2 separate regions of the Homo sapiens genome follow, and region 1 is linked to region 2. A link means that fine-mapping ties the variant in region 2 to the expression of a gene that starts in the linked region. Tissue or cell type: whole blood. Region 2 holds a variant in brackets; the other region holds the start of a gene. All regions are shown on one strand. Distances are from middle to middle. Region 1 holds the start of ZMYND19 (zinc finger MYND-type containing 19). Region 2 overlaps DPH7 (diphthamide biosynthesis 7).

Region 1 (2,893 bases), 34 kb before region 2:
TCACAAAGCAGTTGCTCATAATCTCATCACACCCTTGCAACTCCATGAGGTTGAGATTGGTAGGGCAGGTACTTTTTTTTTTTTTTTTGAGACGGAGTCTCGCTCTGTCGCCCAACCTGGAGTGCAGTGGCACGATCTCGGCTCACTGCAAGCTCTGCCTCCCGGGTTCAAGCCATTCTCTTGCCTCAGCCTCCCAAGTAGCTGGGACTACAGGCACCCGCCACCACGCCCGGCTTTTTTTTTTGTATTTTTAGTAGAGGTGGGGTTTCACCGTGTTAGCCAGGATGGTCTCCAGCTCCTGACCTCGTGATCTGCCCGCCTCGGCCTCCCAAAGTGCTAGGATTACAGGCATGAGCCACCGCGCGCGGTCGGACAGGCATGTTTTGAGCAAGGCCCAGCCTGAACCCCAATGTGTGTCTCAGGCAGGCCAGGACTCATCAGCCCCTTCAGTCCTCTAGGGTGTCTGGGGTACTGGCAAGTACCAGGGGACCCAGAGATGGAACGTCTGGGCTCACTCATGTACACCCTTTGCAGGCTGGGGCACGGTGGCTCATGCCTGTAATCCCAGCACTTTGGGAGGCCGAGGTGGGCCGATCACCTCAGGTTGGGAGTTCGAGACCATCCTGGCCAATATGGAAAAACCTCACTTCTACTAAAAATACAAAAATTAGCCGGACATGGTGGCGCGTGCCTGTAGTCCCAGCTACTCGGGAGGCTGAGGCAGGAGAGTCGCTTGAACCCGAGAGGCAGAGGCTGCAGTGAGCCGAGATCGTGCCACTGCACTCTAGCCTGGGTGACAGAGCAAAACTCTGACTCAAAAAAAAAAAAAAAAAAAGCAAGAAAAGAAAACGGAACCCAGCAAGCCAGAAAGGAGCCTGTGCAGCTCCTCAGGTGCAGGAGTCGCCCTTGAGGCAGGGTGAGGCCTCCTCACGGGCGACTGGACACCGGCGGAGCAGGACGCAGGACCTAGCCCCGTTCGCTCCAGGCTGCAGGGGAGCCACGCTGCCCACCACGGCGTACCCAGTCCCTCCCTGAGCGGGTCTCGGCTTTCCCGCGGAGCCTAATGGGCCTCACTGGAGTTCCGTTTCCAGACGCCTTGGACCAGGCTGCTCTGGAGGTCAGCCGCCCCCGAGGCTGAAGAGCCGGCGGCTCGGAGAAGGCTGCGCGGGAGGCCGCGCCCTCCGGGTCGCGTGGGCCGGGCGTCCGCTGTCTCTCCAGAAACACCCGCGTCCCGCGGCAACGGCCTCTTCCTAGCCCGCCTCGCCCGCTCCCCGCCCGCCCAGAGGGCCCCGCACGAGCTCCGTCCACCTCCTCCTTCCGCGCTCGGGGCCAGGACGGCGGCGGGAAACAGCTTACGGAGGCTACCGCAAGGGAGGCGAAAAGCAGCCAGCTCGCAGAGCTCCACGGACCCGGCGCGAGTCCCCAGCCACACTCCGCACTGCCCCTCTAGGCGCGGCGCCGCTGCCCGCACAAAGCTTCCCGCGAAACTGACGTCGGCGCGCGCAGGCACCGCCCCCGGCCTCGCCCCTCCCCCGCGCTCGCCCCGCTCCCCAGAGCGCCGGCGCACTCGCCCTCCTCCTATTGGTTGTTGCGGGGCGGCGCGCGCCGGTCGGCGCCGTGCGCGCCTAGCCATTGGCCGAGCGGCGGCGGGCCGGGGGGTGTGTCCGGGGCTGCGCCCCGCCCCTCCGCTCCGCTCGCTGTGGTGCGCGCGGTGGCGGTGGCGGCGGCGGCGGCGGCGCGTGGCAGGTCCGGCGGGCGCGAGGCGGCGGCGGAGGCCCGAGCCCGGCCCAGCCTCGTCCCGCCCGGAGCCCGCCTGGCTGCTACCCCGACCCCGGCTCCGGTCCCGTCCTGTCCCGGCGCGCCGCGGCCTCGCCCCGGCCCCCGCTCGGCGCCTCCCGAGGGAGCGGCGCTGCCGGCCGAGAGCGCAGGCCCGGCCATGACCGACTTCAAATTGGGTATCGTGCGGCTCGGCCGGGTGGCCGGGAAGGTGAGCGGCGCGGAGCCCGCGACCCGGCCCGTCTCGCCCGTCCAGGCCTCCGCGCGGGGCCGGGGGCGGTTGTGCGGGCGGCGGCCGGGGCGGGGGCGCGGAGCCCGGGATGGGCCCCAGCGGGGCGGGGGACGCTGCGCGGGCCCGGCTGCTGGCCCCGCGCGGGTGCAGCTTCCTCTCGCAGGCCGGCGGGCACGCACCCCTCGGCTCTGGGGTGCACCTGGCCACCCTCGGCCCTGCCCTGCCGGAGGTGGAGGCCACGGCCCTGTCCCGAGCCGGGTGCGGAGATGCGTGGCTCGAGCCCGAGCCGCGTTCTCCCGGAGCCCTCCCAGTGGTGTCGGCGATCCGGGGCCTAGCGCGGCGTCCGGGCTGCCAGTGCGGCCACACGGTTTAAACACAGCGCCCTTTCCGAGGCAGCGCCACTTCCACACCTCTCGCCGAGGCGGGTCTGGTGTGGGCTCTTCTGTGCCTCCCAGTTCTCAGCAGGGCTTCAGGCTCGTTTTAACGCTGCCAGGGGTTGGCCACGTTAGGCTGAGCCTCAGACTCGGAGCAGAGAGGAAGAAGCCTGGGCCCTGATGCTGCAGACTCAGGGCCTTCCTCGACTTCTCTTCTTACTTGGCCCCCACGCTCCACGTTTGAGGCTGGGGATTCCATGGCACCTGTGGGCATTGAGGCTTGGCGGTTTCTCGGAGCCACCTGTGCAGCTGCACCAGCCAGGGTCCTTACCCGGATGGGAGCCCTGTTCCCGTCACCAGCGGCTGCGGCTTTTGGTGGGAGAGAGGAGCCGAGGCAGTGTCAGGCGGCGTCAGGTAAAACAGGTTCAGATCCCAGAAGAAAAACTGCCAAGAGGGAGACTGGCCCGTTCTGGGACCTGTTCCTGTTTCCTGCCCCTGCTGCAAGAGCATA
Region 2 (2,893 bases):
TCTTTTTTGAGACGGAGTCTTGCTCTGTCTCCCAGGCTGGAATACAATGGCACAATCTCAGCTCACTGCAACTCCCACCTTCCGGGTTCAAGCAACTCTCCTGCTGCAGCCTCCGGAGTAGCTGGGATTACAGGTGTGTGCCACCACGCCTGGCTAATTTTTGTATTTTTTAGTAGAGACGAGGTTTTACCATGTTGGTCAGGCTGGTCTTGAACTCCTGACCTCAGGTGATCAACCCGCCTCGGCCTCCCAAAGTGTTAGGATTACAGGCGTGAGCCGCTGTGCTCGGCTGGCCTTTTTCATAACTTTATTTATGTATTTTTTTGAGACAGAGTCTTGCTCTGTCGCCCAGGCTGGAGTGCAGTGGGGTGATCTCAGCTTACTGCAACCTCCACCTCACAGGTTCAGGGGATTCTCCTGCCTCAGGCTCCTGTGTAGCTGGGACTACAGGCATGCGCCATCATGCCTGGCTAATTTTTGTGCTTTTAGTAGAGATGGGGTTTCACCATGTTTCCCAGGCTGCTCTCAAACTCCTGCCCTCATGTGATCCACCTGCCTCGGCCTCCCAAAGTGCTGGAATTACAGGCGTGAGCCACTGCACCCAGCCTGTATCTTTAATTTAAACAATTTTTTTTTTTTGAGACAGAGTCTTGCTCTTTCACCCAGGCTGGAGTGCAGTGGCACGATCTTGGCTCATGCAACCTCCACCTCCCACGTTCAAGCAATTATGCTGCCTCAGCCTCCCGAGTAGCTGGTACTACAGGTGCATGCCACCACACCCAGCTAGTTTTTGTATTTTTAATAGACACGGGGTTTCACCATGTTGACCAGGATGGTCTCGATCTCTTGACCTTGTGATCCACCCGCCTTGGCTTCCCAAAGTGCTGGGATTACAGGTGTGAGCCACCGCGCCCGGCCTAATTTTAAAACAATTTGTATTGTCTGGGTGCGGTGGCTGACACTCGCAGTCACAGCACTCTGGGAAGGGTGGGCGGATTGCTTGAGCCGGGAGTTCAAGACTAGCCTGGACAACATAGTGAGACTCCGTGGCCACAAAAAATAGAAAAAACTAGGGGGCATGATGGTCGCAGCTACTCAGGAGGTGAGGCAGGAAGACAGAGCCCAGGTCAGTGCACTCCAGCCTATGCGACAGAGTGAGGTCCTGTCTTGAAAATAAAAAGAGGGAGGAAACGTTGGCCTGTGGCTAATCAGAAAGGGCCTCCCATTCTTGGGGTCGCAACAGTGTCTTCCGTCCACTCATTCGCTGTCTTTTTCCCAGGCTGTGGCTCTCTGAGGGCTTAGACTCTGCCTTATTACCTTTTCCTAAGCTGTAGAAGAGGTCCTGCTGGCCCGAGTGGACGTGTTGAGCGATTGCTGGATGAAAGACTAGCGGAGGTCCTGCCTGCCCTGTGACGCTACCTCCCAAGGGACAGTAACGGCCTCCCCAGGGGCTTCCTCCCGAGGGTCGCCCCACACATGCTGCTCGAGGGCCCCTGTGGCTGTCTCTGAACATTCAGCATCTCACTCCTCCTCGGAGCCACCTCTGCCCAG[T/C]TGAAGCCCTGGGCCCAGGGTTGGGCCTCCCCGGCCCAGGCCCATACAACCTCGGCACGTTTTGTAATCCAGTGCGGTCCTGTTCTGCCCTCAGCCCTTCTTCCATCAGCACTCATTCTGGTTCTGATTCCGGTCACTGCTGGCATCAATCCCTGTACTTCAGAGGTAGCGATGGCAGCCCTTTCAGAGCCCAAGTGGCCACCCAGCCTTGCAGCCCCTGGCTCACCTTCCACTTGCTCTCTGCAACTGCCCCTGCCAGCCCTGGCCTTGCCTCCTGGACTCCAGATCGCCTCGGGTTTGGCCACGCCTCGTCATTCCCTCTGTTGCTGTGTGCTCTGGGAGGCAGTTGTGGCCTCTTTCCAGTTGCCGTAGCAACTTCTATAAAGAAACTGCTCACTTAACCTTGTCAGTGGCTCCTTTCCAAGCCAGAATCCAGACTCTGAAACAGGGCGTGCCGGACCCTGCATGCTTGGGACGCTCCAGCCCACTGTCACTCACTGACAGTGCCATGGCTGCCTGTTTGTGGTTCCCCGTGCGAGCCTTGGACTTTCTCACCTCTGCTGTACACATGCTGCCTGTTCCTCAGACATCCCCTTCCTTCCCAGCTGGCTAAAACTCCTTTGTTCTTTGGTTTTAAGTGTTAACTGAGGTCTTTCCCCCTCTCTGGCTTTTGCCGTATTCTTCACCATCAAGTGAGGTTCTGTAGCCCCGCTTGATGCTTCTCTTGGAGGCACACAGGCGTGTGCACTGCAAGATGACGGTCTGTTTCTTCTCCAACATATGCCCAGGTCTTGCTGGTTCCTTTGCATGACACAACGGCTCCTCAGGAAACACTTGCTGACCTGTGAGGGGCTGTTCTTGGAGTCTCCCTGTCAGGTGTGACAGGTTGGGGAGAGGCTCTGGGTGATGTTGTGTTTCCTGGGTTCTCCCATCTCTCACTCCAGAGGAGAGGCAGGAGGCGACGGTCCTGACATCTCACACATTGCCCGACTCGCTGGTGTATGGAGCCGACTGGTCCTGGCTGCTCTTCCGTTCTCTGCAGCGGGCCCCCTCGTGGTCCTTTCCTAGCAACCTAGGAACCAAGACGGCAGACCTGAAGGGTGCAAGCGAGTTGCCAACACCCTGTCATGAATGCAGAGAGGATAACGATGGGGAGGGCCATGCCAGACCCCAGAGTGGAATGAAGCCACTCACAGAGGGCATGAGGAAGAATGGCACCTGGCTGCAGGCTACAGCAGCCACCACACGTGACTGTGGCGTGAACCCAGAAGAAGCAGACTCAGCCTTCAGCCTCCTGGCCACCTGCTCCTTCTATGACCATGCGCTCCACCTCTGGGAGTGG

Evidence for each region.
Region 1: ZMYND19 starts here. The variant in region 2 is fine-mapped to the expression of ZMYND19 in whole blood (TOPMed, PIP above 0.99).

The regions. Positions count from the first base shown.
Region 1 is chr9:137,589,307-137,592,199 of GRCh38, reverse strand. ZMYND19 (zinc finger MYND-type containing 19) reads left to right here and starts at 1,688. Exons shown (of 6, transcript NM_138462.3): 1 at 1,688-1,987. The coding sequence starts at 1,937. LOC124902318 (a long non-coding RNA gene) reads left to right here. Exons shown (of 3, transcript XR_007061885.1): 3 at 1,092-1,161. RefSeq lists silencers at 1,143-1,212, 1,403-1,792, 2,073-2,182, 2,233-2,282 and an enhancer at 2,553-2,602.
Region 2 is chr9:137,555,251-137,558,143 of GRCh38, reverse strand. It overlaps DPH7 (diphthamide biosynthesis 7), which reads left to right. Exons shown (of 9, transcript NM_138778.5): 9 at 2,496-2,893. Among named protein-coding and RNA genes, the nearest start is that of MRPL41, 4.8 kb to the right of the region's middle. The variant T/C (reference allele first, on the strand shown) is at 1,552.